Linked DNA regions of Homo sapiens: regions 2, 3, 4, 5, 6 and 7 are each reported to be linked to region 1. Evidence: microRNA targets listed by miRTarBase, many of them from high-throughput screens and not tested one by one. Region 1 holds a microRNA gene; each other region holds the end of a gene's coding sequence.
What was found. Region 1 holds the annotated microRNA hsa-miR-6504-3p (CAUUACAGCACAGCCAUUCU, at 1,353-1,372, opposite strand). A microRNA usually pairs through its seed, bases 2 to 8, with sites in the 3' UTR of a target mRNA and lowers its output. Matches are read on the target gene's strand: a 7mer-m8 pairs with bases 2 to 8, a 7mer-A1 pairs with bases 2 to 7 and ends in A, and an 8mer does both.

Region 1 (4,131 bases):
GCCTGCGGGCAGCTGGTTCCAGGCTTCCGACTTCTGGTGTTAAATCTTTGGAATGCTGAAAGGGCCTGGTTCCAGGCAAACGCTGCCCAATTTCCTCTCCCAAACTTGCCAAGTTCTTTCTCATTGTTGCATTGTCTTGAGAGGTGAGAAAAACAGCCCAGGGTGCGCTGTGAGCGACCTTTTCCAAGCTCCCCTTCCCCGGCCCAGTTTCTTAGGGAAAAGGAGCTTCCTTTCTTACTGGAAGCTAGAGAGTGAGACCTTTCTGGTGCTTTCCAGACCGGAAAAGTCCTGCTTGCTACCTTCCAGTAAGAAAGGAACCCACCCCGTCCCTGCCCTGCTGCCAATGTTTGGGGTAAACAGTTGCCCCGCCTCCTGCAGGACTTTCCAGAACATTGGTGAGAAGAGCCGAGTCCCGGAACCCATCCCCGAAAGAAGCAGACACTCTTGGGAGGAGGGTCTCCCTGCTCTTATCTTGCCTGAAGCCTTGTTTGTGGAGCAGCGGCTCTGTCTAATTTTTGCTGATGGGCAGCCACTCAATTTTTAGGCAGAATCCCCCAGAAGATGATCTGCGCCGCGCTGCTCTTTAATGCCTGCTACCCCATCCCAGGGGCCAGTGACAGCACCTTCAGGACGTTTTCATGACACTGTCTATGTACTTACATGCTTGGCCTCCCCACAATGAAATGCTAGCAGAAAGGGCATCAATGGAGGAAATGGGATAAACAGGCCCTTTCTGCAACGAGGGATTCTAATAACATGGCAGTGAGGGAGCTCACGCTGAAAACACAAAGCATCCAAAACACACCAACTGGACCCACGCTGGAAGGCTGGGCGCCTCTGTCTGCCAACTCAACCTGCTGGTAGATTGCTCTGTCTCTGAGCTGGGGATGAGGGGCATGGGCCTGAATGTCCTCTCTGCCTTCCTTGAAGGATCAGGTCAGCTCCCCGAGGTCTGCAAGAGGCATTGATTCAAATTCTAACAAAGTAAGAGTTTTACAAAGAGCTCCTTAGAAGACAGAGAGAGCGGAGGAGGAGGAAGAGAAGAGGGGAGAGACACACAGAGAGGACTGGGGGACAGGCTCAGAGGTGGTGAGAGGCCTGGAGGAAGGACCTGCAAGAGAAGCCCAGAGTGAGCCACAGCAAGGACTAAAGAGAGAGAAAGAGGAGAGGCAGGAGGGGACAGAAGGGGAAGGAGGGGAGAGAGATGGAGAAAAGGCATGAGAGAGAGGAAAACAGACACACATGGATGCAAAGAACCTGAAAGAGACAGAGATGGAGAGAGATCAGGCAGGCTGGGGTAGGGAAGGGGCACTAGCCCTCTTTGGGCCCCGCCATTCCCCTTGTCTGTAGAGAGAATGGCTGTGCTGTAATGCAGCAGGGTGCAGACTGCATTACAGCACAGCCAGACTGCAAGATCGAAGAGCCCCCTGTGATCTGACGTGATTCGCCCCAGGAGGGGCTCAGGTGCCTGCAGTATGAGGTCAAAATGAAAAGGCCTCGAGGTCAGCACTGCTCCACAGAACTTCGTGTGTCAATGGAAATGTTCTTTATGTGCGCTGTCCAACACAGCAGCCTTTGGCCATGTGTGGCCCCTGGCCACTGGAGGTGTAGCTAACGGGACTGAGGAACTGTGTTATTAATTTGATGAGTAAATTAAATCCATCTGTGGGCTGCCATGCGTGGCTGCTGGTGGCTGTGCCGGGCGGCACCATTTAAGGCACTTTCACTCATCTGCTGACTAGGAGCACTAAGGTAATGCCGTTCAGATGGGCACCTGGCTGTTTCTTGGTCCCCTCTCCCACCCTGGAGCAGGGAAGATCTGTCCCCAGGGCCAAAGGGGTTGTTCTCTGTGACACCACGGCTCTGGGATCTAATACAGTATGTTGTATGTGAATCAAGACAAAGTACAGCCTCTCAAAGCAGAGGGTCCTGCCACCCGTCACAAAAGGCACGTGAATACAACCAGGACTGAAGAAAGCCCTGAGTACCACACCAGGGGCCAAGTGCACCCCGCCCCAGCCTCCCTAGAACCACACAGACTCGCTAGCCCTGTTTATAGAATGAGCCAGCTACATACCACCCATGCATCACGGTGGGCAGAGTGTGGGGGTGAGGATGAGAGGGAAGCAAGGGAGAAGCCGATCCAGGTCTACCTCCCCTGACGGAAATGGCAGCCAGGGAGAGAACCACAGCCGCCAGGGGCAGGGGCTGCACCCACCTGGGTTCCCCTTGGGGGAAGGGTTGGGAGGCCGTGTCTGCTGCTCCCTCATTAGCTCGGAGTCCGGCTCTGGATCTGAGGAGTTGCAAGCCGCCTCCTCCTCCTCCTTTTCCTCTGCTTCCTCCTCTCCTGCTCCTGCCTCTGACTGCGCTGTCCACGGGATCAGGGGGCAGTGAGCAAGTGGGATGCTGGAGCAGCTAGAGGCTCCCCGCCCGCTCGGCTCCTCAGCACCACGGCGGCAGCTCTGTCCTGAAGCCCTGCCAGACACGGCGGCCAGGCGAGTCATCACAGCTGGGCCCGCGGCCACAGCCGGGTTAAAGGGACATTCCAGGCACTGCTTCTCTGCTTTTCAGCCTCACTGCCCCTCCATCCCTGTGGCGAGTGATGCTCTGGCCTCCTTTGGAGGCCAGGGCTGCCCCTCCAGCCCCAGAAGGAATGAGGCCCCTTTGCTGGTGGAGCAGGAAAGTGGAGGCTCAGGGCCTCCTCTCCTCCAACTGGAATGTTTCAAGGGGCTCCCTCCTGCCTCTCTGTCATGCACAGATCTAGGCCCCTCTGCCCTGCCACCACACTGATTCCTCTAGTGTCCCTCTACCCCTTCAGAGCTTTCAGTGGCTGCCTATTGCCTTTGGAAGAGGGTCTGAGGCTTCTTCACTTGGCTGGCAAGGCCTGGGTGATCTGGCCATCGCCCAACAGATCTAGACATATCCACAGCCCCAAACTCCATCTCTCCATCTCCTCCAGCTGCAGCAAGTACCCAGGTCCCCCATATTCAGGCTTTGCACACACATCCCCTCTGCCCGGGGAGTGTGCCCCCACCCCACCATTCTGGCACACTTCTACTCATCCCTCTACACCCAGTTCAAATGCCCCCTGTCTGGGGAGCCTGCTTTGGCCCCCCAGGCCAAATAAGTTCCTCCTTCTCTGGGCTCCCAGTCCTCCACGGTTGCCTCTAATTTAGCCATTATTTCCGTAATCATTTGTTTATGGCTCTGTCTCCCCAGGGGCTGAGGGGCTCTTCACGCATGGGGCCTCCCCGAGCACAGGGGAGAGGCTGCCTCAAAGCTCTGTGACTACAGCAAAGTCATTGGGGTAGGACAATCTCTGGCTACCCTACCTCTCCGTTGGCCACTGAACCCTGTGATTGCCCGCCCCATCTCCCCCGCCGAGGGGGGCTGGCACTGACCACCCCCTTCATGGACTCTGTGCTGCAGCCATCGGATGGGCAAGAAGGAGCGAGTGAAGAGGCAGAGGAGCTGGCAGAAGTGTCTGGCAGGAGGGTGACACTGACCTCTATCATAAAGATGAGAGGAGAGAAAGAAAGAAGAGGAAGGCTTTGCTGGCTGTGGTGGGGAGGGGGGGAGGGACAGTGTGGGGGTGTGGGGACAGGGTTAAAAGAAAAGCGTAGAGGGCAGAGTGTGAGAGATTCACTAAGAAGAAAGCAGACTGGGGCAGGCGTGGTTTCCAGAGTCCTCTGAGAGATGACAGTAAGAAACAGGACATTTCTAACAATGCTAAGTTGTTACGCTCCGCTACTGAGCTCAGCATTCCTTGGAGCCCAGACTGGGTGACTCTCAGCCCAATGCTGTTACACAATCCAGTGGCTGCTAGATCTAAAATAGGTTTTTAGAAAGCATCTCTTTGGGCTAAGAGAAGGTTTCCCTGGAAAAACAAGTTAGGAATAAAATGATCCCAAAAGAAAAAGCAAGGCAGGTCTTCTTCCCACTGATAAGAGAGTAAATTTTCTCTAGATGAGGGGTTTCAGACTCGGGGTTCCTTCTGAAAATTGGCTGGCTCCCCTGACATGATGTAACATGTCTTATGTATGTGTGACCGTGGTCGTGGTTTTTGTCAGTCACTTCTCCATTCTTGGTGGACGCACCTCACCGCCTCTGTGTGGTCCTGGTGGGGCTACC
Region 2 (4,000 bases), not on the chromosome of region 1:
GAGGGCGGTGGAGAAGGAAGATGTGTCACTAGGTAGGGCATGTGAGCCCTGGCTGGGGTGGACACGGGGGTGCAGGGGGCAGAGCTCTGGGGCCCAGGGTGGTCCTCACTGCAGCTCCCAGCCCCACTATTTGCCCCTTCCCACTCCCCCACTTTTCCTCTCTGTTCTCTCTCCACAGATTGAAACATCCCAATTAGAGCCGGAGATAGCCCAGGCCACGAGCAGCCGGACAGTGGTGTACAACAAGGGGTTGTGAGTGTGGTCAGCGGCCTGGGGACGGAGCACTGTGCAGCCGGGGAGCTGAGGGGCAGGGCCGTAGACTCACGGCTGCACCTGCAGGGAGCAGCACGCCAACCCCAGCAGTCCTGGGCCCCCTGGGAGAGTGCTCAACCTACAGTGGAGGGAGACTGACCCATTCACATTTTAACATAGGCAAGAGGAGTTCTAACACATTTCGTACAAAAAAATAATCAAGTGCATTTCTGGGCCTTATGTGGGGTTGTCAAAACTCCACTCAGCACAATTATGTGTGAAGCTGAAAAATTGTAGAGTGCCCATGGGGTAGAAGTAGAATCCTTTTATACTTTGGTTCCTTTTTTATTTTTATTTTTTATCAGAATCAAATCTGAGCCTTAGTTTCAGCTGACCAGAAGTGGCAGGAGGACAGGTGGAGGCGAGCCAGATTAGGCCTGGAGTTGGGCTGGTTTGGTGGCCAGGCTGGTAAATTTAGGATATTACAATGGCCAGCCCAGATGGCTCCCTGGGCTGGCATGGGGAGGGGAGAGAAGGTGGTCTGCACCCCACAGGATGAACTAGCCATGACTAGGGTCCTCAGGCAGTGGCCCAGGGAATCAGGGAGCACTGGAGGCCTCTGCAAGATTCTGTGGGCAGCTGGCTCTGAATGTAGCCAGCCCACATCCATTCCAGAGCTGCAGAACCAGTCCCTCTGAGTGAAGTCCAGTGACCCTGGAGCTAGGGTCCCCCTTCGTGGAGCTCTAACTGATTCAGGGCCCCTGAAGTGACCCCAGCTCCAGGCAGGAAACCCCGAGAAGGAATGGTGCTTGGCAGGAACCATGGACCTGCACTTGGCCTCTTCGGGAAGATCCTCCTTCCAGGCCCCAGGCTGGATGCTGGGTTCTGGGGCTGAGAGTGGGGCTAGACTGGGCTGGCTGCCTTCTGCGGAGCTTCTCCAGCCACCAAGGCTGCCTGCCCCATCCCATCCCTTTCTAAGCAGGAAGGTCTCATGCCTGAGAATGCCTAGGCCAGCTCCTTAGACACCTATCAGAGAAGCAGCATCAACCTAGGAGCAGTGGGCCCTGGCTCTGTCACTAAATGGCAGTGAGATGTCAGACAAATTCATTCCCTTCTCTCAGCCTCCACTCCCTGTCTGAAACCAGAAGACTGGATCAAGGGGTTCCCACTGGCTCCTCCAGCAAGACCTCGTCTTTGCTTGTCCTGCTCAGATGCTGGTCATCCTGGGCATGTCCCCAGTGTGGACTCTGGACTGGGAAGGGGGCAGGCCCCTTTGGACCTGCAGTTGGCCTCAGCAGAAGGCCTTGCCTTGTGTATGTGACTCCATATCCCGGGAGCAGTTGACCTTTGCCAAACACTTTACAGTTCTGGAGGAGGAGGTAACATAGATGCCTGGGCCTGATGGTGGGGCCATACCCATGTGTCGCCTCTCACTCTGGCAGCCTCAGAGGCCCCTTGCTGCTGGCTCCCATCTCCCTCCCATTTGCAGACCAGGAAGGAAGAGCAAGCTGTACAAAGGGAAGCAGAGCCTGGGGTGGGTGTGAGCAGGGTGACCCCTCATCTGAAAGGCCCAAACCAGGGGGAAGCACCAGCCTCAGTGCAGCCCCCTCCTGACCCCACCTAGAATGGAAGCCTCCACCTGCAGCCCCAGGCCTCCCTCCCCCGGGGTCTCCACCTCAGGGGAGACTTAGGCCAGAGGTGAACATTCATGTGTAGGAAGAGGCCGCTGCAGGGTGGCATCTTAGGGTAGGGGAAGTGTGCTGAGGTGGGCCTTCCATGGGCATGGCCGTTGCCTCTCTGCCAGCCGCTGGTGCCCACCAGCTGGCTCTGCAGCACATTGCCCTGAGGGGCCTGCCACTCTCCTGAGGAGCAGCCCACCTGCTGCCCGTGAGGAGGGGGAGAAGGGTTAGACAAGCCTGGAGGACAAAACAGCGGGAGTGTGGGGGTGCCATGGTGTTGGAGGGGCAGGCCTTTTTGAGCCAATCCCACCATAATGTGAATATGCCAGTGACTGCTGCGCTGTGCTGGTCTCTAGGCCTGAACTAGGTGCTGGCATGTCTGGGTCGTCTTTTGAAAAGCTCACTTCAAGCTCACCCTGCTCCTACCTATCATAAGGTCTTATTCTTGTGCACTTTATCTTGGGACCAAAACTGCCTACCCACCCCTTCCCGCCCTCCCCCTGCCAGAGGCCTGGTGCCCTGGCCCAGCCTGTGGCCTCAGCATCTCATAACTCATTTGCTTTGTCTCCCGGATGATTTCCGTCATGCTCCCAAATGCAGCTTCAGGTGAGCCAAGGGGTCTGCTCCTGTGGCGGTGCAGTGGCAAAGGATCCAGATAGCCTAGGGTGAGGGTGACAGAGGGACAGTGGGCTATGCCACTAGGCCCTGGTCTGGCTTTGGAAAGACCTGTGAGGGGAAACCTTCACCCAGCACCCATGCCCCACTCTGCTGAGGCCAGAGGAAGGGAGGCCTGAGGGGCAGATTGGTTCATGCCTGGGGTGGAGGCTAAGCCTGGACACAGTCAGGGCGGGGCTGGCCAGCTGTGCGAGAACACAAGCCACGCCTGCGATGGTGCTGCACCCCTGGTGTCCCTGCCTGGCCCTCCTCTGGTCACTTCAAACATGCCCTCAGGCTTGGGGATGCCCTTCTTCCATTCCCAGACAGCAGTGTGAGGGTGCAGGGACCAAGATGTCAAGCTGGCCGTGGAGTCGAGCTGGCCGACGGACCCCTTTCACCTGGTTATGAGCCGACTTCTTTGGTGTTCTGGCCTCTGGCCTGGGAAAAGGGCAGGAGCCTAGAGGAGGAAAAAGGCTGGTGGACAGACCCAGGGTGGTCTTCAAGCCTGGCCCAGTGAGAGTGAGGCCCCCGCACGCAAGCCTCAGCCACTCCCAGGGGCCTTTGCAGCGTCTTTTTAACCTCAGAAAATTTCTCAATCTATGTGATTTGTGTAATACTAATGAGCTTTGGGCAATAAATACGGGATTTAAAGCATCAGGGTGTGGTTTTGTGAATTGTGGGTGGGAAGGGGAGTGGCGTATGGAACCCAGTGGGAAAAGGGAAGGACTGCCTGAGGATTTTGTGGGAATACCTCCAGGGAAGGTGCAGACCTAGGTTCCAGGCTGGATCGGGCCAGCTGGGAGGCCCAGAGGGAAGGGGAGAGGAAAGGATGGAGACCATGTGAGGACACAGGGCAGTGAAATTCTGCAGGACTCCCCTTACAGAGCTGTTATTGAGCGCTCACTAAGGAGCCCGCCCTCAAGGAACGTGAGTAAGACTTTTGGTAGATTCCCATACTGTTTATATCCATGAGGCTGGGAGGCCGGAGGGGGTCATTTCTGGACCACCTGGGGCCAGGAGAGGCCTCCTAGGGAGGGAAGGTTTGAGCCAAGTGGAAAGGTGCTTCATGGCTGCAGTGTGCATGGTACCAGCCCTGAGATCTCTGCCTCTTCTTAACTCCTCCACTATCCCTTGGGGCTAGGACTTGGGCATCTCCTGATAGCAATGGTTCCTCCTCTTCCAGGCAGCCCCCAGAGTTCCCAAGTCCAGCCCTGCAGAGAAGCGGGCAGGGAGGTGGAAAGCCATCCTGGCTGGGGTCAGATAGACCCCAGTTCCAGCCGCAGCTTGGCCCAGCATGACTGGGGCTTCTAGCCAGATGCTTCCTCTATTCACCCATCAATTGGGTCAGACATTTATTGACACCTACTCTAACTGAGCCTTGGTGACCTTATCTATAAAATGCCACGAACAGC
Region 3 (4,131 bases), not on the chromosome of region 1:
TGCTGAGAGTATGGGTTTTCAGCAACACTGGGAATGACAGAATTAGAATATCATACAATTACTCATTTGCTTTATCCCACATTACAGCAAATGCTTTTTAAATGTTAGTTCCCTTTGATGCTCTACCCCGCTTCCCTTATAAAGGGCAAATAATTCTTCCCCATAATTTTCCCTTCTAATGTTTACAAAGGGCAGAGACAGGTTTCTTCATATTTAACATCCTGAGAGGCTACAACTCTGAGTCCTCAGTCATTTCTGGAAAGGGTCCATGCAGGGATGATCTTGGACTGTGCAACAAATGGTCCTGACAGACAGAAATGCAGTTTGTCCTGGGCTTAGAAAATAAGGAGACCTTCTTGCTGTATGGGGGCTAATAGTAGCGGTGGATAGGTAGACAGGCAATTCCAATCTACTATGGTAACTGCTGCCATAATGGGATGGCACAGAATGCTGTTGGAGCATAATGCAGTGGAGCACTTGTGCCTACCTTGCTCCTGGTATATTAGGGAAGGCTCCCAAGATGAGGGACGTCTAAGCGGGGTCCTGGAGGAAGAGCAGGAATTAGTGATGTTGGCAGTTAACAAAGAGGAGGGAGGAGAAGGCATTTTCAGGTCCAGAAGCAGCAACAGACAAAAGATCCAGAAATAGGAAAGTGTGGTTCCTAGAGAAACTGCAAATGAAGAGTTGACAGTGGCTGGGGTAGTAAAGGGAAGGTGAGAGAGTGTTCTGCTTATCTGCCCCACATGGTGCCTTGTACTCGGCAGGTGCTCACACGTTCTGGTTTCAGAAGACTATACTTTTTTTTTTTTTTTTTTGAGATGGAGTTTCACTCTTGTTACCCAGGCTGGAGTGCAATGGTGCAATCTCAGCTCACTGCATCCTCCACCTCCCGGGTTCAAGTGATTCTCCTGCCTCAGCCTCCTGAGTAGCTGAGGTTACAGGCACCTGCCATTGTGCCCGGCTAATTTTTTTGTATTTTTAGTAGAGATGGAGTTTCGCCACGTTGGCCAGGCTGGTCTCAAACTCCTGACCTCAGGCGATCCACCTGCCTTGGCCTCCCAAAGTGCTGGGATTACAGGCATGAGCCACTGCACCCGGCCAAGAAGAGTACACTTTATAACAGCAATAACAACAATAACAGCTTGTGGCAATTACAAAGTGAAAAGTACTGTGCCAAGAACTTTGCACAAATTATCTCATCTAATCCTCACAACAACCCTCCTAGGCAGGCATTCCCTTTCTGCAGTCAAGAAAGCACGTTCAGAAAGGTCAAGATGCACAGCTACTATGCTGAGTCACACATCCATATGGTGAAGCAGGGCAGGGATTCAAAGGCCCAAATTTTCTCATGCCAAAGCCTAAGCTCCTTCTCTCTTACCTTTCCTTCATCCCCTTTTACATGAGTAATAGCCTCCAAGGGGGTCACCTAGAGTTCTACTCAGGATTCAAGTAAAGATGTGTGTCTGAGGGATGAGCTACATTTCCCAAGATCTGCTTATCTGCTGCTTGGTTTGGGCAAACAGCCATCTGCACCATTTCTTTCCTCTTGGCTGTGACAGGTGAACTGTTCTAGCACAGACCAGGTCACTGCCTTGTGCCTTGAAGCTCAAATGATAAAACCTATGCCCTTCAGCCCAGCTGCTGGTCCTTTGGCAAACCAACCCCTGTGCCTGTGCCCCTCAGTGAAATATCTTCTGTCCCAAAGGGCTGCTGGCACACTGGCTTCATCTGCCTTGGTTTTTCTCAGATTCCACGCAGCTTTCTATCGGAGCATTAATGCATTTATTGGTTTACACATCCTTCTCTTTTTTCCAGATTGTGAGCCCCATAAGGTCAGGGACTGTGTCTTTATTTATCTCTGTATTCACAGGGCCTAGTGCAGGGATGGTACAGAATAGACATCTAGCAAATACCTAATCATCCCCCCCAAGTCCGTTTCTTCCTAGGAGAAAATGGAGGTAACAATATCCATCTTGGGGGACACCAGGAAGGTTAACTGAGATAATGTCTAAACCAGACTTAGCAGAGCACTCAGCACATACTAAGTACTCAATAAATGACATCACCTATGATTACTATTATTATGTTATACAATATTAGATACTCCAGGCCAGGTGTGGTGGCTCACACTTAGAATCCCAGTGCTTTGGAAGGACAAGGCAGGAGGATTACTTGAAGCCAGGAGTTCGAGACCAGCCTGGGCAACACAGTGAGATCCCATCTCTACAAAAAAATTTCTTTAAAAATTAGCCAGACATGGTGGCATACCTGTAGTCCTAGCTACTTGGGAGGCTGAGGTGGGAGGATTGCTTCAGCCCAGGAATTTGAGGTTGCAGTGAGCTATGACTGCGCCACTGCATTCCAGCCTGGACAACAGACTGAGAGTCTGCCTCTAAAAAATTTAATTTAGTTAAAATTAATTAAAAAAAATTTTTTTTTGAGACAGAGTTTCGCTCTTGTTGCCCAGGCTGGAGTGCAATAGCATGGTCTTGGCTCACTGCAACCTCCGCCACCTGGGTTCCAACGATTCTTCTGCCTCAGCCTCCCGAGTAGCTGGGATTACAGGTGCCCGCCACAACATCCAGCTAATTTTTGTATTTTTAGTAGAGATGGGGTTTCACCATGTTGGCCAGGATGGTCTCGAACTCCTGACCTCGTGATCTGCCCACTTCAGCCTCCCAAAGTGCTGGGATTACAGGTGTGAGCCACCACGCCTGGCCTAATTTAAAATTTTTTAATTAAAAAAATTAATTTACATTTAAATCCTGACTTTTGCTATGGTAGGAATGAACTTTACTATTCCTTGTCTCATGAACTGGGAGTGACTAAATGTGTCCCTAGTTGCAGTATTATTTTTTGTTTTCTTATTTCTATTTTAGATTAAATCAGACAACATGTGCATGCTTTACCTATAAAGTTTCTCTCAATTCTTGGACAAAGATTCACTCAAATGAGCTGGAAGGTGAGAGGTTAAGAAGGCAGAAGCCTGGGAGTCACACAGAAACACATTACAGATGTCATGTCCCTGGGCTGAGTTTAGAAAAGACAAGATGTTTGCCAGGCAGAAAGAGGGCATATTGGAAATAGGCTGGCAATCCCAGTGGTTAGAGGAGCAGGAGGCAAAGGTTCAGAGGCAGCATAATAGAAGCGCCTATCAAATTATCAAATTAATAGTTCCACAAAGCTTGTTACAAAAAATTGCACTCCTCTAGGCCCATTTTCCTTTTCCCTCACAACACTTTTCTCTTTTTCCTCTGTCCAATACTTACAGCATTTAATGTGTTGATACATCTGTCTTCCCTCTACCAGATGGTGACTCCCTTGAGAACAGGGACTGTGTCTTATCTACTGTTAATTACCCAGTGTCTACAGCAGAGAACTTCGGAAACCTTTCTAAACCTGGGCTTGCTGCTGCGTAAAATGCAGTGGATAATCCCTACTTCATACGGCTGGTATGAAAGTTTTACCTTTGTATGAGGTCATATTTGTAACATACTTACCAGCATGCACGTAATAAAATACTGAAAGAGTAAATCTATGAATAAATGTAGTGACCCAAGCACCAACTCTCTACTCCTGCTTTTCACTCAGCCTAGGAAAAACTACAACGGAATCCTTCCCCTATGGAGAAATCATGATTCCTATTTCTGTCTTTGGCCACAATTTTCTTATTTTCTTGTTCCACTCCACCTCGTAGCAGAAATATCACGGATTCTGTAGGCGCTTCCTGGTTCTAGGTTGTGGAGCTCCTCAGGGCTTGGAAGTGAGTGGAAAGAAATGTTCAACTTCTGTTTCTCTTCTCTTTCCCTCTCCTCCTTTCCCCTCCTGTGGGGGAAACAAACGAACAAAAACAAAAATTAATTTAAAAAATGTAATTTCTTCAAAGACTTTGCACGTGAGCAGTGGCGTGGCCAGTGGTGATCCTTGTGTGCATGGAATATTGAGGGCGTGCTCCTGCCTCCAGAGAAAGTGGTCGAGCAGGACAGCTGGCATCCACGGCTTCCACATCCCCAGTGCCTCCATCCTTCATCTTTCACCAGTACTGACAGGAACACTGCTGTGTCGGATCTGAACTGGGCCCCAAAAACCTCTAGGTAGCAGGCAGGTACTACTCCATTGGAGGTGACATCC
Region 4 (4,131 bases), not on the chromosome of region 1:
GCAATTTGTCTCATGGGGCTTAGTGTTCTTCAGTCCACTCTGTTCAACTACCCTGCCCTCCCCAGAAGCTCTGAGGACCCCCTGATACCTACCCCCAGCTTAACAGCCCTCTTGTGTTGCAGATCTCCTACCTAGACCCCTCAAGAGGACTCGGGCTACCATCAGGCCCAGTCAGCCAACAAATCTGAGCTCCACCCATACTGATCCCCACACAGGTTGCTCCAGAACCTCCTGGATTCCAGAGCAATAGCTTAAAGTCATAGTGTCAGTCTGAGGTGTGTTCCAAGAAATTTGTTACTAATAGGAAAGTACCAAAGGGATTTTTCTATAAGTTGGGGCAGACTAAAAGTTTTCCTGTGTAATAGGCATTGTGTCCAGCTCCATTTCCCCTTTCCTCTGGTTTCCTTCAGAGAACGACCCCTCCTTCTGCACTTAGACCATACAGCTCAGGTGGGGATAACCTTGCTCTTAGTTCCAGAAATGGGCGTGTGACTGAGGCCTGGCCAATCAGAGCCCCACATTCTCATGGCCGTAAAAACCAGCCCACAGATGGGCACAGGGACCAAGCAAGGAGGATGAGACCACTTTAGCTGGAGGGCAGGTAGGCTGGAAGTCTGCATCTGCTACAGGGAAGAGCTTGCCCACGAATGAAATCCATGTAGTTCAGCAGAGCTGAGTGACAGAGAAACATCAACTGTGCTTCTTGATCTAGCCAGGATGACTCCTGGAACTTTTATTAATTTTCTACATTGAACACAGCTGAGCATTACTCACATCTGACATCTGTTCAAACAATAACATTTCTCCCCTCCTGGCAGCAGGCTAAAAGCAATATGGGTAATAGCTAAGTATTATTTGAGACAGGGTCTTGTTATGTTGCTCAGGCTGATCTCGAACTCCTGGGCTCAAGTAATCCTCCCGCCTCAGTCTCCTTAGTGGTTGAGTTTACAGGTGTGTGTCACCGCACCCACTTTAGCTGATTAAATAAAAGGGTGTGTGAAACCACTTTCTGCCTCTTAGTGTGAAGAGGGATAGTACTCTAGTTTGGGCAAATCTTCAAAAATCACTATTTGAAATTTGAAAATCGTCCATTTGCAGCTAATGATTAAGTTTAACTTGGGATACTCAAGTTACTTTTCATTTTGGGCACATTTCATCTCAAAGATGTGGTCCCATATTTTGTCCATTTTTCTTTGTGGGAGGCAATGGCAATTCATATCGGCCTCTCATAAAACAACCAAGACCGGGATCCAGGCATGATACTTGCTGAAGAGGCTTCCCTTAGGCTAATCTGACACCTCATTGCAGAAACCACCAGTCACCAGCTCCACTGACCACCTGCCATCCAGCTGGCTGGAGCCGAGTGCTCTGCAGACTCAGAAGTCCAAGGCGTGGCTCCCAGGGGCCCTCACACCATAACCCCTCAGTGGACAGCACCACTGCAGAGGAAACCTCAGTGTGGACCATGGCAGGGCCCTGCTTGAGCTGTCTCTGTTGTGGATTGAGTCCCAGCTCCAAAAGGACTCACACATTGCCTCCCCTCCCTCCATTTCCTGACACATAGGTGGCTATTCTGCAGTTAACCTTTTATTGTCCCTCCCCTTGTATCTTAGCAGCTAGGAAATGAAGTAGGTTGGTATGTTTTAGTTGTGTGTGCATATGAGAGTAACAGTGTCAGATATTAAGGTTCATGGGTTTTAGAAATGTGTATAATCAAGTCCTCACAGCCAAAAGTTTTAGTGTAAACTATCAGTTCCAGGAGAAAAAGGAGAAAGATAACTAAGAATGAAGAGAAGAAAGTGTCCAGGAATTCAGTGTGACTATCAGAAACCACTAAAAATGAATGCAGTGCTGGGGAGAACTGCAGACTGGCAGAGCGAGGCCAGATGGCCTGTCACCCCACGCCTTAGTGAACACCAGGAGCCAACAGACTGCCCAGAGCCAGGGCCTTGGTACCACACCCACACCACAGGCTCACACAGGTAGGAGGCAGGCAGGTTCAATCTTGCTGCCACATACTAATGACCACAGGCGGCCTGAGGTCTTTGAGGTTGTTTCTTCTAACATTCTGCAGGAGGGAGTTCATTTTTCAATACTGAATGGGCTGCTGTAAACAGGTTATCTCCTGGGACCACTACAGCTTAAGGACAAAGCGTGGGGATGGCACAAGTGAAGGGAGGGTGTCTCTCCTGCCTCCTCACCTAAGATGAAGCCTCCATCAGCTCACCCACACTTGTTTTTCTCTTCTCCATGAACTTGCAGGGGCATGTACCATTAGTAAGGAAAATAAAACCTTTTAAATATGTTTACTGAAAGCATCTTTCTTGCACAAGGCTTAAAGTACTGTGCATTTGTGAGCATATCGTGCTTGATAATGAACACGCACACACATTCAGCTCATTTACAGACAAACCATCCACAAGTTGGATTTTCTACATTTCAAAATGGAATGACCATAGCGGAGGATGTCAGGTTCTAAGCCCTGTCTTGATAAAGTTTGAGAGATTGTAACACGCTTTTACTTTCCTCTTTAGGTTTTAAGCATTATGTGCTGACTGAAGCTAGAAATAAAAACAGCTTTGCTTTCAGCCAATTTCTGCTTTACTGTGTCACTGAGACATGTTGTTTGAGACCCCTCATCATTAATGGCCAATGATCCAAGAGTGGAAAAATGGTCTGAGTCATAATTATAAACAGGTTATGATCAAGCTGAACGTCTGACCTTAGAATTAAATCAGGCCAGAGAAAAGAGAAATCATGCTTTGCTCTGTCTTCTACTGCAGGGTTGATGTTTACAATGTCCCTCTGCCCCTTTCTCCCATATTTGGGTGCTCTTCCCCATGCTCCTATGGCATCCTGCATGTGCATGATTCTATCAGCACTAATCTTACTGCCTGCAATTGTTGGTTTAAACATCTGCCTCCCCAGAAGACTTGAGGGCAGAAAACTTTTTTTTTTTTTTTTTTGACACGGAGTCTCGCTCTGTTGACCAGGTTGAAGTGCAATGGTGTGATCTTGGCTCACTGCAACCTCTGCCTCCTGGGTTCAAGCGTCTACTGCCTCAGCCTCCTGAGTAGCTGGGATTACAAGTATGCGCCACCACGCCTGGCTAATTTTTATATTTTCAGTAGAGAAAGGGTTTCACCATGTTGGCCAGGCTGGTCTCAAACGCCTGACCTCAGGTGATCCACCCACCTTGGCCTCCCAAAGTGCTGGGATTACAGGCATGAGCCACCATGTCTGGCCCAGAAAGCATTTTGATAAAACTCTGGTTCCCAGCACTCAAACCTGGTGCCTCAAACACAGTAGGTGCACTGCAAATGTGTGCTAAGTGAAGGTAAGACATGCTTACTTTAAATAATTCACAAGACAGAAGACCGCACTTAAAAAAATCTACAAGGAAACACCAATTTAAAGAAAAGAAAAATCAGTAAGTATCTGTGAGAATAATGGAGCAAAAGAAGTCCTGAAAGAGTTCTGCATCTTGGTGGTCATATTTATTGGAGAGCTTGAGAAAAATGAAAATACCATTTAGCTTAAGAAGTTGTGAGTTATCTGCAAATCAACTCATTTCAGGAGTGGAAGAATCCCCGGAATTATTTCTTAATATCAAAATGTATGCAGGTTTCTCTTATGAATGTTTTGTACTTTTAGAGAGGCCACTGTACAAAGTCTCCCGTTTTCCATACAGGACAAATTCTTTGTTTCAGCCAACTCTCAGTGGAGGGGCAACCAGGACAACGCCATCTCCCCGGACAAAGAGCATTGGAATATTCCGTTTCGTTGACTAGAAGAGAAAAAAAAACAGAACATATTTGTACAACTGTGTATTACTGCTTATTGTTTGTGACAGAAATGTTAAAAAATGGATTCATCATGACACAAAAAAATTGGATTAAAAAACCTGATCACTTCCCTTGGTAGCACCAAGAACCAATCCATCAACTGCTTCCTTTCGACAATTGTGGCAGAGACTGGAGCTACCCATTAAAACTCACTCTTCTCCTCCTGGGCACACAGCTGGACTATGTTTCTTATTCTTCCTTGCAACCAGATGTAGCCATCGGATTGCTTTAACCAATGGCAAGTAAACAGAAATGACAGGACTATATCCAGACTGACCCAGAATGC
Region 5 (4,131 bases), not on the chromosome of region 1:
TTTGTTATGGGATTATGGATTAAATCAGTTATTTAAAAAAAAAAAAATCCGCCAGGTAACTGCTCATTTACTTTACATCAAGTTGAGATCTTGATACATATATATATATATCTCAACTTTATAATTCAAGATTGCAGTTAAATATTTCTAATTCACTTGAATTACCATATTAATAAGACAATTAGAAACCTTATATTTTCTTAATACAGACATGCTTAACATTTTCTGACATTACTTCTAAACTCAGATGAAGCATAAACTCTCCCCAAAACTGCTCTAAAAGTTAAGTGGTTGAGTTGGTAGCAAAAGCTATCATGGTTTAACATTTCCACCACAGAGTAGATACAAGTAAAGGTCACTGCAGTTTAAACATCTAACAGGTAAGAAATTAACATGAACCAACTAACTGAAATTAGAATACTGCCATTCCATGTTTGAATATTTTCAATACTCAAGTTTCATATTTTCAAAATGGACAGTAATACAGTTTCCCTATGTTTTGATACAATTTCACTATAAATTATGGGCCCAGATTACACTTTTAATGTTGGAATTGGGTGGTCACTCATACATTATTTAAATACTCTAGAAGATAAATCATGATCAGTTAAATTTATCATAGTTAACTATCACAAAACATCAGTGGTAATAAAAGAATCACAGAAATGGAATCAAATAGAATAAAGAATAGGAAGAGCTACCAGAACTACTTAAACATTAGGTGGACAGACATGCAAGAAAAAACAAACCTGTAATGTTCTTATATGAAATAATAAACTTCATGGTTTGTCTACATTAATATTGTACTCAGCCAGGCGCAGTGGCTCACGCCTGTAATCCCAGCACTTTGGGAGGCCGAGGTGGGTGGATCACTTGAGGTCAGGAGTTTGAGACCAGCCTGGCCAACATGGTGAAACCCCATCTCTACTAAAACTACAAAAATTAGCCAGGCATGGTGGCATGTGCCTCTAACCCCAGCTACTTGGGAGGCTGAGGCAGGAAAATCACTTGAACCCAGGAGGTGGAGGTTGCAGTGAGCCAAGATTGTGCCACTGTACTCCAGCCTGGGTGACATTAGAGACTCTGTCTCAAAAAAAAAAAAAAATCTATCTATCTATATATATATATATACACACAGAGTACTCAAGATGATGACAGTCCCTTTTCCCAGTGTTTGTGAGAGACTGTAATATACAGTACTGGGCAGGCACTTCAGTGACAACATAAAAATTACAGTGGATAGAAAATGTGGAAAATTACCAGCTACAAATTATCAATAACAAAATCTGTTCTTTTGGCCAGACTACTAGAGAGGATATATGTATATTTATGAAACAAGTTTTTAAAACCTAAACTTACTATTATGAAGATTCTTTTAAGCAGAGTTTCTGCTAAATGAAGCATCATAGATTATTATTACACTGTAAGAGATCTTTGCTGACCTGCCCAATAGTGATCTATATACAGGAAAGCTGTGTTATCTGGAACTTTTATCAACTGGAATTTTAGAAAACCCAATGCGAATCTTGACTCCACTAGACCACTGTACATCAAAAGACCTAATCACAAAGCAGAATACTGGACGACAACGAGATTAACAATATGCTGTTTTCACAGTGGTAAGATAAGAGAAGGGAAGGGGAGGGAAATCAGAAGAGAAATATCACCTGGGTCAATAGGAATTAACTCTTAATTAACAATTTTAATTAATCTCCACTCTCCCACTATGCTGGGTAAGAAAGCTTTTACTGTATTATCACATCATAGAGAGGAAAGCAAAGCAAGTAACTTGGTGTAATAGGTTACTTTGCATAGTACCTCTTGGTACCAAGGGAACATACAGAAATCATTCCCATTAGTAAAGCACCTCAAGAGAGGATTGAGAAAAGTTAGATACAAAGGAGTTTTGTTTGTGCTACCCTAAAGTCATCAACTATAAAAAGTTAAAAACACTCCTCTCTTCCCTTACATACTTAAAATAGCAAAAATGTTTTCTTAGAACTTTTATACACACAAACTAAAACATAGCCAAAAATCCATAAAGTGACTTTACTAAAGCAAATTATGGGGCAGATCTGGACTAACTGAATGTCAAGAATGGATTAAAATGCTAATTTAAAATACACTAGTCTCCCACAAATCACCTTCCCCAAAGAAAAGCTTCTGTTTGAGCCGGAACAATCTCACAGAATCATTAAGACAACATAAAAAGAAAGAGTAAACATTCTATATTCCAAATAATTTACTAATATTTCTTCCAGCCTCGTACTTTCAGTTTAAACTAATTTATGGTTTAAAAAGAAAGGAAATTACACAAAAATGTTAAGAACTTTTCAGTGTTCTACATACTAATTTAGAGGCCATGAGGATTTAATTATTTTTTTTAAATGATGCAAGGCACTTTTCTTTTTTGGGGCTTCATTTAGAAAAAAATAATGCTACATTGGTTTATTAGATTCTATTTAGAATCATTTTGGACAAAGGAAAAAAGGGCTGGACAACTCTGAAAAGAACAAATACAACGTTTGGCTTTTACTGCCAAAAAATGCAAAAAGGAAAGTCACTCGAAAATCTAACACTATCCTTGTGTTTAAGCACTTGGTACTATAAATCAAAACGTTTTCCTTTTATCATGGAAACTGTAGTTTTTAAAATATAGAAAAATTAGGAAAGTAATAAGAAAGGAAGCAATAATTAGATCAAGTTAAAGTAAGGACAGCTAATTAGGATCATGATTTAAAGATTAATAATGGAAGAAGTATAAAAAATAAAATGGTAATTAAGCTATTAAGTTATACTAAAAAAGAAATGTGGCAGATTCCTGCATTTTGTTAATGTTTCTGTAAGAGGCTCCATCATAAAATTGAACTGTAAAATTATGTTAAAAATGTAATATATAGAACAGAAAAATGAATTTTTAGCAAACCTTAGCAAATTTTGTTATAAATTACCCAAACTTTATAAACAATCCCCCCATACTTGCATTTTGTTTAAAGTAATAACTTTATATCATACAAATAAATTTCAAGTATGAAAAGTGCATTATTGCAATAATACCTCTTTGCAAGTCCAAAATTCTTGGTTTATAATAAAACTTGTAAAGCATGTGTGTGTGCGCGCGCATGTGTTTTTAAAAAAAGGAGTAAAACCATCAGTGTCATCTATTGCAGAAGTCCAACATCTTAAAATGTTGCTCAACAAGTTGCAGAGAAGTATGTCTGGAAGCAACATGTAATTGAAAAAAAAACTACTTATGTTTTTACCATTTTACATTATAATTTTCTCTTGTATTTTCTCCTTCCCAAATAGAAATTCACACTCTATGATGTTGCTCTTCAAGTCAGCCATTCTGTGCAGTCGCCACTTGCATGGTTCCAAAATCATCCTCTTCTTCATGTGTTCTCTTCAAACTGCCTAAAAGTTATTGCATGAAGATTAAAAGGGCACTAAAATAAATTCATGTTAAAAGGTTACAGCAAGTAAAATTTTGTTATTAAGTGATCATGTATACACTATGAAAATTCCACAACTGATATAGCAAAATTTAGTAAATTCCTTTGTGATAAATTACCTAAATATTATAACTTTTTAATCTTCATGACAGGATATATTTTCCTTCTCAAGTATTATGTCTTAGGTATTGCATATAAAATAAATAATTTTTGAAATAGTGTGAAAATAGACCTTTTCAAGAGATAATACATAAATGTTTAGTTATCAAGTTAATTGTTTTTTAGGCACCATAAACATGTGACTTAGGGCATAAAATTTAGGAAATTAATCTTGTATTTGTATAATTTTTTGTAGATAATCTTTTTGCTTTCACAGAGGCTGTTATGAAGAGCAGCTGAAAATATTTTTCCACTCAAGCTATCGAAGTCTAGGTTGGGAGAAAGGAAGGCATGTAGCATATAAAGAGATTTTCTTTTATCTATTCTTCATACCAGCATCTGCTAGTACAGAAATCTCCCACATAGAATCAAAGCTATCTCTGTATCCCCAAAAGTTATAATCAAGAAATTAGACTCTCAATGGAGGAAAACTTTAGGGAACAGTTAAACCAGCAGAGGGTCTGCTGTGTTTTTTGCCTAACAATGGCATGACCTTAAACTTATGCCCTACAGGACTGTT
Region 6 (4,131 bases), not on the chromosome of region 1:
AGCTTGGGCGATATGGGAAGACTCTGTCTCAAAAAAAAAAAAAAAGGCCAAGCCTTGTCATTTAGTTCCTAGGTCTTGTGGCCTACATTTTATTTTCTTTATTTAGAGATGTGCAGATGGTATAAAATCTACTTTTTTATAATAAATTCACATTTTGTACCTCTGAAATTTTCCATTCGAGGGAATTTTAAAAAATTGAGATCTGATTTATTCACAATTCTGACGGTAAGCAGAACACTTACTTAATTTAGCAAACAGCTTCCTAAGTATCCTCCCCACATAAATAAAACAAAAAACTAGGGTCTTCAAAGAATATTTCAGTAACAAGAATATAAAAATATTGAATACCAACTAAAGAAGAGCAATAGATATAATATCTTAATATCACTTTTATCCAGTGTAAGACAATTTTTAAGCTTTATTTTTATGAAACATTTCAGATTCCCTCATATCACAGCACATCAATAAGCAGTATGTACATAGACTGACTTTTATAGTACATGTCATGTCCCAAATTCCCAATCCTAGGTAAGATATCAAGTTACAAAATACAAGTGCCGATAATTAAACTATAGGTAGTATATTAAACAAAAATGAGTTTTTAGCAATTATGTGAAATAAGGCTTTAACCAAAGCAAGACTTAATGCCACAAGGTGTCTTTTTTCCCCAAGAGTAATTAATTCAATCAAGCCCATGATTCCAAGCTCAAGTAACAAGTTTTATATTCTTGAAGCAAACAAGAAAAGGCAATCAATGCTTAAGTGGTATATTTTAGTATATATTACATTTCTGGACAATCTCTCATTGCATTCAATTTTTAGAACTTGTCTTGGGTCTAATAAAACAGAAGAATTAGAGAAGAAAGCCCATGCCACTTTGAGGAATGTAACATAATTGTTTTGTCTGGGTACAAAGGTACGTTACAACACTGGGGGTCTTTAGTCAAGTTCCCATACTAATTGACTCACCAAAGCATACTTCCTTCAGCTACAACTGTAATTGGAACACACAGATTTTACCTGAAGAAAATCCTGTACTTCCAGTTTTAAAAAGCAGACAATTCTATGAAGAAGCAACCATTTAAATATCTAACTATACACATTCAAGTTTTTACAACTTCATGCCTTATGAGGAATTTTGATTTCAGAAGTATCATTCCACAGACTCAGCATCATATATTTATACATATTTCATACAGTATAGTATTAGAAACTGTAAATGGCACAGAATAATCATAATTATCACAAAATTTTATCAATTTCCAGTGATCTTAAAAAGACAAATTATAACCGCCTTTGCTCAGCTAAGATATCCAGTTATGGTTACAACTTTCGAAAATCCTAAAGTTATGTGAAAAAAATTAGTCAAAGAAAATCTGTAAATCTGATACTTTCCAATATTTTAAATATGCACAGCTAAAGAGAAAATAAAGGGGTTGATCTGGCACATGAATAATTAAGTCAATGAATTTTACAACCCTGAGCCACTTTGGCAACTACTTTAGGTTTCACATAATTTTCACAGTCTTAGTACCACCATTTTCATTCAGATAAAAGAAATGACCTTTTGAAATCATGGGCATCAAATTTGGTGCTTATGGACAAGAATCACAACTAGAAGCTAGAGACAAAATGGATCACAGCAAGCACAGTTTCCCTCAAAGAATAAGGAACGCTATAGAATATACAACAGCGATAGTTTAGAAACCTTGGGAAGCTCACATTTCTTTAGTTATTTTGTTTTACTAAACAATTTGAAGTAAGCATTATATTCATGTTTAAAAACAAAGCAAGGAAAAATAAAAAATGAAACAAAAATGCAGCATGGAACATTTTAGGAGTCACAGAAGGTTCTCTTCTTCCCTTTGTTTTGGGCACATTGTCTCACCTGTTTTCACTTTGTTACAAAAGGAAACAAAACCAAATCTCTGCTCAGAGTGGTCATAGTGAGAACACTGAGATTTGCATATGTTTTTCTACTTTCCCATCCATCTAGACCCTGAAATCTAAATAAATATTTCAGTTAAAACTTTTTTTCCATTTGCATGAAGTCTGGGTCACTATATCTCCTACCCTGAATGGGGGAAGATGGGACAGCTATATCTCATACTGAAGCGGTGGCAGCTAAAACCTGGCAACTGCTGCCAGTGTCCCCAATGTGTCTTGCTTATTATTTTTTAAAATGTGACAAAGACAAAAGCTACAGCTGGAAACTCACACAATTTAGAAATATGTTGAAAACTTTTATTATAGTCCTTAGGATTTCCAAGTAAATGCTCCCAAATCAAGTATTACAAAGCTGCTAATTAATTAGCAACTGAAAATTAGCCATTCAAATTATATTGGAAATATTTGCTGAATTGTTTTTATGAAAGCTTCCTCTTGGATTCTGTAAGGATCAGAGTATCTGAATCCACAAACCAGCTAGTTTCAAGAAAGAATTCTTTTGACTAAAACTTACCTTAAAACCAATTTTCCCAACTCTTTTCCTTTTCCCAAATAGTCCAACGTTTTGAGGAGAAATATATGAGGCAGGTTGTTTTATACGGCACTGTACCCTTTAGGAAACCTAACATTTCAGTGAACTGGGAAACTTCACAACATAAACTCTATGTATTTATAGATATTATGACTGCTGTATAATATATACTGTGGGGAAAAAAAAAAAGAAGAAAGAAAAGACTAGCCTGGGCAACATGGCGAAACCCCATCTCTACAAAAAATACAAAAATTAGCTGGGTATGGTGGTGCCTGCCTGTGGTTCCTGCTACATGGGAGGCTGAGGTGGGAGGACTACCTGGGCCCGGGAGGTCAAGGCTGCAGTGAGTCGAGACTTTGCCACTGCACTCCAGCCTGTGCGACGGGGTGAGACCCTGTCTCAAAAAAAAAAAAGAAAAAAGAAAAGTTTTATCAAAGGATAAAACCGAAATGCTATAGTATATAGTGTGACCATAATTTCAGAAGAAGAGAATTAGCATAATTTAAAAGGATAGCTAGCATACTATACGTTTTAATAATTCCAGTATTTTTGTTACTTGGGCTTAATTTAACTTATTTTCCTCTTTTTGATTTTTGTATTTTTAAGAGGGCACTTTTAATTTTCAAGTTGTGTTTGAAACTATAGAGTATGCTAATACAACTTAATATAAATATAAATAATATATAAGCTCTCTCTCTGCATATATACACATATAAACAGACCCAAGCATTAGACCACTGATGTTGTACTTTCAGGATTCACACGAATAAGTCTAGATGCATTCCTCAGATCTTGGAGTTGCTTGGCAGGTTTCCCCACACCTTCTTCAAACCTTTTCTCCACCACAGGGAGGACTGTTTCATATAAAAAGGATGCATTCTGTCTGATAAAAGCTTTCTTCTCTGGATCCTGCTCACATCGAAGACTATAATCCACATGCTGAACAGCAACCAAAATGATTTCCACCAGGCTCTCCAAAAGTACCATGTGCAGCTCTGGGAAATACAGCTTCAGGGCCTCTTCCAAGAAGCCCATGGTCTGTTTGGTGAAAGCAACCACTGTGTAACTTAGGTTCACCCAGCAGTCATCCCCTGTGTACTGCTCAAAGTTACTTACCCCACAACTTTTCATCTCTTCTTTGAGCTTACCCAGGGCTTCTGGCGTCATCAAGTTCATCCTCCTCCACATCTCTTCAGAGTTGCGATGTTTAGTGGCTTCAATGATGATTTCTTTGTAACTGTGCAAGGCCCCTTGGATGTCTTTCACCAGAAGGGCATGGATGATGAAGGTGAGATCCAGTCCGATATCACCCAGTTGCTGGCAATGCTCCTTAGCCACTTTTACACACTCAGCTGCTGTAGAGAGGCTCTCCTTACTATCAAACACCTGCTTGCTAAAAGCATCCACGAACATGCCCATGGCTGATCTTGCCCAGACCACAAAGGCAGAGTAGCAGCCGCTGTCAGTGCCTGCAAAATCGATCTCAAATTCTCTTGCAGTCTCGAGAAGGCTGGTAAAGAAGACATGGCACAGCTTATGAATATAGAGTAAAGTGGCACCTTCGATGCGAAGCTGACGAATTGCAGTATGAACAGCGGCTGCCCTGTTTCTCAAAAATAGCTCACAGGCCTTCGTGCACTGGCCCAGCCGGA
Region 7 (4,131 bases), not on the chromosome of region 1:
CCCAGAAGATGCTCAAGAACCTGGTCAAGGTGGCCCTGAAGCTGGGACTGCTGCTGCGTGGGGACCAGCTGGGCGGTGAGGAGCTGGCGCTGCTGCGGCGCTTCCGCCACCGGGCGCGCTGCCTGGCCATGACGGCCGTCAGCTTCCACCAGGTGGACTTCACCTTCGACCGGCGCGTGCTGGCCGCCGGGCTGCTCGAGTGCCGCGACCTGCTGCACCAGGCCGTGGGTCCCCACCTGACCGCCAAGTCCCACGGCCGCATCAACCACGTGTTCGGCCACCTAGCCGACTGCGACTTCCTGGCTGCGCTCTACGGCCCCGCCGAGCCCTACCGCTCCCACCTGCGCAGGATCTGCGAGGGCCTGGGCCGGATGCTGGACGAGGGCAGCCTCTGAACCCCGGCGCCGCCCAACCGCGCCCCTCGCGCCTTTTGGGGCTCTCCTGCTGGGCGCGGGTGGGGTTTGTGGGTTTTTTTCCACCTCTTTTCTCCCAATCGGACTCCGGCCAAACTCCCCTAGACAGATGGGTGACCTGTCTCCTTTGAGAGGATGCTGAGGCATCTGTAGCAGCTGTTTCAAACACCAATGTCACCTCTCCTCCTGGCCCCCGCCCAATGGGGAGAGGAATTTGGGGCCCTACTCTGGGGACCACCTTTCACCCGTTTGTACTTTCTGGGCCACGCCGACCCCTGGGTCGCTTGATGTAAAAGCCAAAAGCTGCTGCCTCCCACTTGGATCATGTCGCCTGGGATTTTCATCCCTCGCACAAGGACTACGGGTTCACACGGTGAACTGGGGGAAGGGAAGTGTTAGGGGGCAAGTCGCGGCACCCCCCCTTCCATAAACTCACGTCCTAACCCCCAGGACCTCAGAAGATGATCTGATTTGGAAATAGGATCATTACAGATGGAATTAGTTCAGATGATCTCATCTTGGAGTAGGGTGGGCCCCAATTCAAGGACTGGGGTCCTTAAAAAAAGGGGGCCTGGGGCAGGGCGCGGTGGCTCACGCCTGTAATCCCAGCACTTTGAGAGGCTGAGGCGGGCGGATCACGAGGTCAGGAGATCGAGACCATCCTGGCTAACACGGTGAAACCCCATCTCTACTGAAAATACAAAAAATTAGCTGGGCATGGTGGCACATGCCTGTAGTCCCAGCTACTCGGGAGGCTGAGGCAGGATAATCACTTGAACCAGGAGGAGGAGGTTGCAGTGAGCCGAGATTGTGCCACTGCACTCCAGCCTGGGTGACAGAGCAAGACTCTGTCTCAAAAAAAGAAGCGGGGGAGTGGGGGATTGAGGCCACGTGCAGTGGCTCACTACTCTAATTCCAGCACTTTGGGAGGCCGAGGCAGGAAGATTGCTTGAACTCAGAAGTTCAAGACCAGTCTGGGCAACATGGTGAGACCCTCGTCTCTACAAAAAAAAAATTATCGTGGTGGGCCGGGCGTGGTGGCTCACACCTGTAATCCCAGCACTTTGGGAGGCTGAGGCGGGCAGATCACAAGGTCAAGAGATCGAGACCATCCTGGCCAACATGGTGAAACCCCGTCTCTACTAAAAATACAAAAATTAGCCGGGCATGGTGTTGCGTGCCTGTAGTCCCAGCTACTTGGGAGGCTGAGGCAGGAGAATCGCTTGAACCTGGGAGGCGCAGGTTGCAGGGAGGCGGAGGTTGCAGTGAGCCGAGATTGCACCACTGCACTTCAGCCTGGTGACAGAGCGAGACTCGTCTCAAAAAAAAAAAAAAAAAAAAAAAAAAAAGTGACTGTGGTGGTGCACACGTATAATCCCAGCTACTTGAGAGATGACGAGGGAAGATCACTTGAGCCCAGGAGTTAAGAGGCTGCAGTGACCGATGATCATGCCACTGCACTCCAGCTTGGGTGAGAGTGGGACTCTGTCTTAGAAAGAAAAAAAAAAGTATTTGGACACAGACATGCATGCAAGGAAGGCCAATGATGCCGGCCACCACCAGGAGCTGGGAGAGGCCCAGGGCAGATCCCCTTCAGCCTTGGAGGGACCTAGCCCTGGCCACACCTTCATCTCAGACTTGCGGCCCAGAGAACTGAATGAGAATAAATGTGCGTGAAGCCCCTCAGTCCACAGGATGTGGTACTGGAAGCCCCCACTCAAGAAGGCTCCAGTGAATGCTGGCACGTTCAGCCAGGATGCCTCCGTGAAGCTGGAGACCTCTGCCCTGGGTCGGGAGGGGAAACTGCTCCAATCCAGGGACTGCCACATGGGAGGGGACGGAGCGTGCCCACCTCCCAGGGGTGAGGGGGGACCCACCTGAGATGTGTGCACATTTTATTTATTTATTGTTTTGAGACAAAGTCTCGCTGTGTCACCCAGGCTGGAGTGCAGTGGTGAAATCTCGGCTCATTGCAGCCCCTTCCTTCCAGGCTCAAGTGATCCTCCCACCTCAGCCCCGGGTAGCTGGGACTACAGGTGTGCACGAGCACACCCGGCTAATCTTTGTATTTTTTGTAGACAGAAGGTCTCACCATGTTGCCCAGGATGGTCTCGAACTCCTGGGCTCAAGCGACCTACCTACCTCGGCCTCACAAAGTGTGCACATTGTAATATCGTGATTTCATATTTGGAGAATCAGCAACCAACCAGCCAACCATGTTGCTTTTATAAGACAGAGCTGAGAAAGCAAAGCTTGGCTGTCGTCTTGGCTCTGGTACCACCCACGAGATGCGGGCGATTCTCAGCTCAGGGCGTGGAGGCGTGGTGTGGGGGAGTCTATTTGCCATTTTTGTTTGTCAGCAGGGGGCAGGGGTTCTCAAAGATTGCAAAATGCTGCTGCAGGTCAGGAAGGTTATTTTGGGTGCCTGTGGGGGAGGTGAAACAAGGTCCCATGACTGTTTTGCAGAACCTTGTCTGTGGAGGGTAGAGGTTGCGGCAGGGGCCTGTGGGCCTTACTTGGTGAGAAGGTAGGTCTAGCTGGCTCCATTCAGTATTTGAGACATTTGGAATTTGTCTGCATTTAAAACCAAGAGATCACACACACCTGTCTGGATTTGGAGTTTCTCTTGAAAACTCGCCAGTCCGGCCGTCTGAGCCTGCACTGACGCCTGGTGAAGCTGTGCAGGGGCCGCCCCTCTCCCTTTCACCACAGTCCTCTCCACTCCCTTTCGCCTCTCCCTGGCCTGCTGCACTCACTGATAGGAAATTCTGACCCCAGACTCGGAGCAGCCTTCCCGTGGTTCGGTTTTTGCTTCCGCGAAAAAGCCAAAGGCCTTGGCCAGAGAGCCAGCTGTTCCTACCTCTACCCCACGCTTCCAAGGCAACCTTCTCCACTTATCTTAGGCCGAGAGACAGCTCTTCAAGAACGTACATGGATCCTGATTTTCTCACGAAGTCCCGATGGAACCCTGTGCTGTTGAGACATCAGTGTGTAAAACTCTCTGTGTCCCTGTTGGGCTGTCCAGACAGTCTGGACTCTTGTAAATTTGAGATTTAATTAAAGGAAACAAACCAAATAGGACTGCGGAACAATTTAAATAAAAGCACACACCAGCCTGGGCGCAGTGGCTCATGTCAGTTAAACCTAGTGCTTTGGGAGGCCGAGGCAGGAGGATCACTTGAGCCAAGGAGTTCAAGACCACCCTGGGCAACATAGCGAGACCCTATCTCTAAAAATATATATATATAAGGCCAAGTGCAGTGGCTCACGCCTGTCATCCCAGCACTTTGGGAGGCTGAGGCAGGCAGATCACCTGAGGTCAGGAGTTCAAGACCAGCCTGGCCAAGATGGTGAGACCCCATCTGTACTAAAAAGTACAAAAATTAGCTGGGCATGGCGGCGGGTGCCTGTAATCCCAGCTACTTGGGAGGCTGAGGCAGGAGAATCACTTGAACCTGGGAGGCGGAGGTTGCAGTGAGATGAGATCGTGCCACTGCATTCCAGCCTGGGCAACAGAGTGAGACTTGGTCTCAGAAACAGAATAAAAAAATAAAAAATTATAGCCAGTCAGGGTGGCATGCACATGTGGTCCCAGCTATCTGGAAGGATGGCTTGGACCCAGGAGGTTGAGGCTGCGGTGAGCCGAGATCGCACCACTGCACTCCAGCCTGGGTGATGGAGCAAGATCCTGTCCAAAAAAAAAAAAAAAAAGCACACA

Region 2: the mRNA of SFXN5 is a reported target of hsa-miR-6504-3p. Seed matches in the 3' UTR shown: 7mer-A1 at 3,198-3,204.
Region 3: the mRNA of FAM227A is a reported target of hsa-miR-6504-3p. Seed matches in the 3' UTR shown: 7mer-m8 at 3,008-3,014, 7mer-m8 at 2,692-2,698, 7mer-m8 at 2,559-2,565, 7mer-m8 at 1,072-1,078 and 7mer-m8 at 81-87.
Region 4: miRTarBase lists LSM3 as a target of hsa-miR-6504-3p. Seed matches in the 3' UTR shown: 7mer-m8 at 3,218-3,224.
Region 5: miRTarBase lists STYX as a target of hsa-miR-6504-3p. Seed matches in the 3' UTR shown: 7mer-A1 at 1,415-1,421 and 7mer-m8 at 1,230-1,236.
Region 6: miRTarBase lists EXOC8 as a target of hsa-miR-6504-3p. Seed matches in the 3' UTR shown: 7mer-A1 at 2,290-2,296 and 7mer-A1 at 781-787.
Region 7: miRTarBase lists TNFAIP8L1 as a target of hsa-miR-6504-3p. Seed matches in the 3' UTR shown: 7mer-m8 at 1,011-1,017, 7mer-m8 at 1,462-1,468 and 7mer-A1 at 2,580-2,586.

What each region holds. Positions count from the first base shown.
Region 1 is chr16:81,608,628-81,612,758 of GRCh38, reverse strand. It overlaps MIR6504 (microRNA 6504), which reads right to left and starts at 1,411; the gene lies at 1,351-1,411. All of the region lies in intron 2 of CMIP (c-Maf inducing protein), which reads right to left. RefSeq lists an enhancer at 3,968-4,131.
Region 2 is chr2:72,941,278-72,945,277 of GRCh38, reverse strand. SFXN5 (sideroflexin 5) reads left to right here. Exons shown (of 14, transcript NM_144579.3): 14 at 179-3,242. The coding sequence ends at 256. Among named protein-coding and RNA genes, the nearest start is that of EMX1, 26 kb to the right of the region's middle. RefSeq lists an enhancer at 2,421-3,409.
Region 3 is chr22:38,582,375-38,586,505 of GRCh38, forward strand. FAM227A (family with sequence similarity 227 member A) reads right to left here. Exons shown (of 17, transcript NM_001013647.2): 17 at 1-3,825. The coding sequence ends at 3,751. Among named protein-coding and RNA genes, the nearest start is that of DMC1, 14 kb to the left of the region's middle. RefSeq lists an enhancer at 643-692 and a silencer at 3,237-3,437.
Region 4 is chr3:14,197,692-14,201,822 of GRCh38, reverse strand. LSM3 (LSM3 homolog, U6 small nuclear RNA and mRNA degradation associated) reads right to left here. Exons shown (of 4, transcript NM_014463.3): 4 at 701-3,787. The coding sequence ends at 3,707. Among named protein-coding and RNA genes, the nearest start is that of LSM3, 21 kb to the right of the region's middle.
Region 5 is chr14:52,770,316-52,774,446 of GRCh38, reverse strand. STYX (serine/threonine/tyrosine interacting protein) reads right to left here. Exons shown (of 11, transcript NM_145251.4): 11 at 1-3,414. The coding sequence ends at 3,341. Among named protein-coding and RNA genes, the nearest start is that of GNPNAT1, 19 kb to the left of the region's middle.
Region 6 is chr1:231,332,360-231,336,490 of GRCh38, forward strand. EXOC8 (exocyst complex component 8) reads right to left here. Exons shown (of 1, transcript NM_175876.5): 1 at 394-4,131. The coding sequence ends at 3,209. Among named protein-coding and RNA genes, the nearest start is that of EXOC8, 3.4 kb to the right of the region's middle.
Region 7 is chr19:4,652,036-4,656,166 of GRCh38, forward strand. TNFAIP8L1 (TNF alpha induced protein 8 like 1) reads left to right here. Exons shown (of 2, transcript NM_152362.3): 2 at 1-3,533. The coding sequence ends at 395. Among named protein-coding and RNA genes, the nearest start is that of TNFAIP8L1, 15 kb to the left of the region's middle. RefSeq lists a silencer at 2,697-2,746.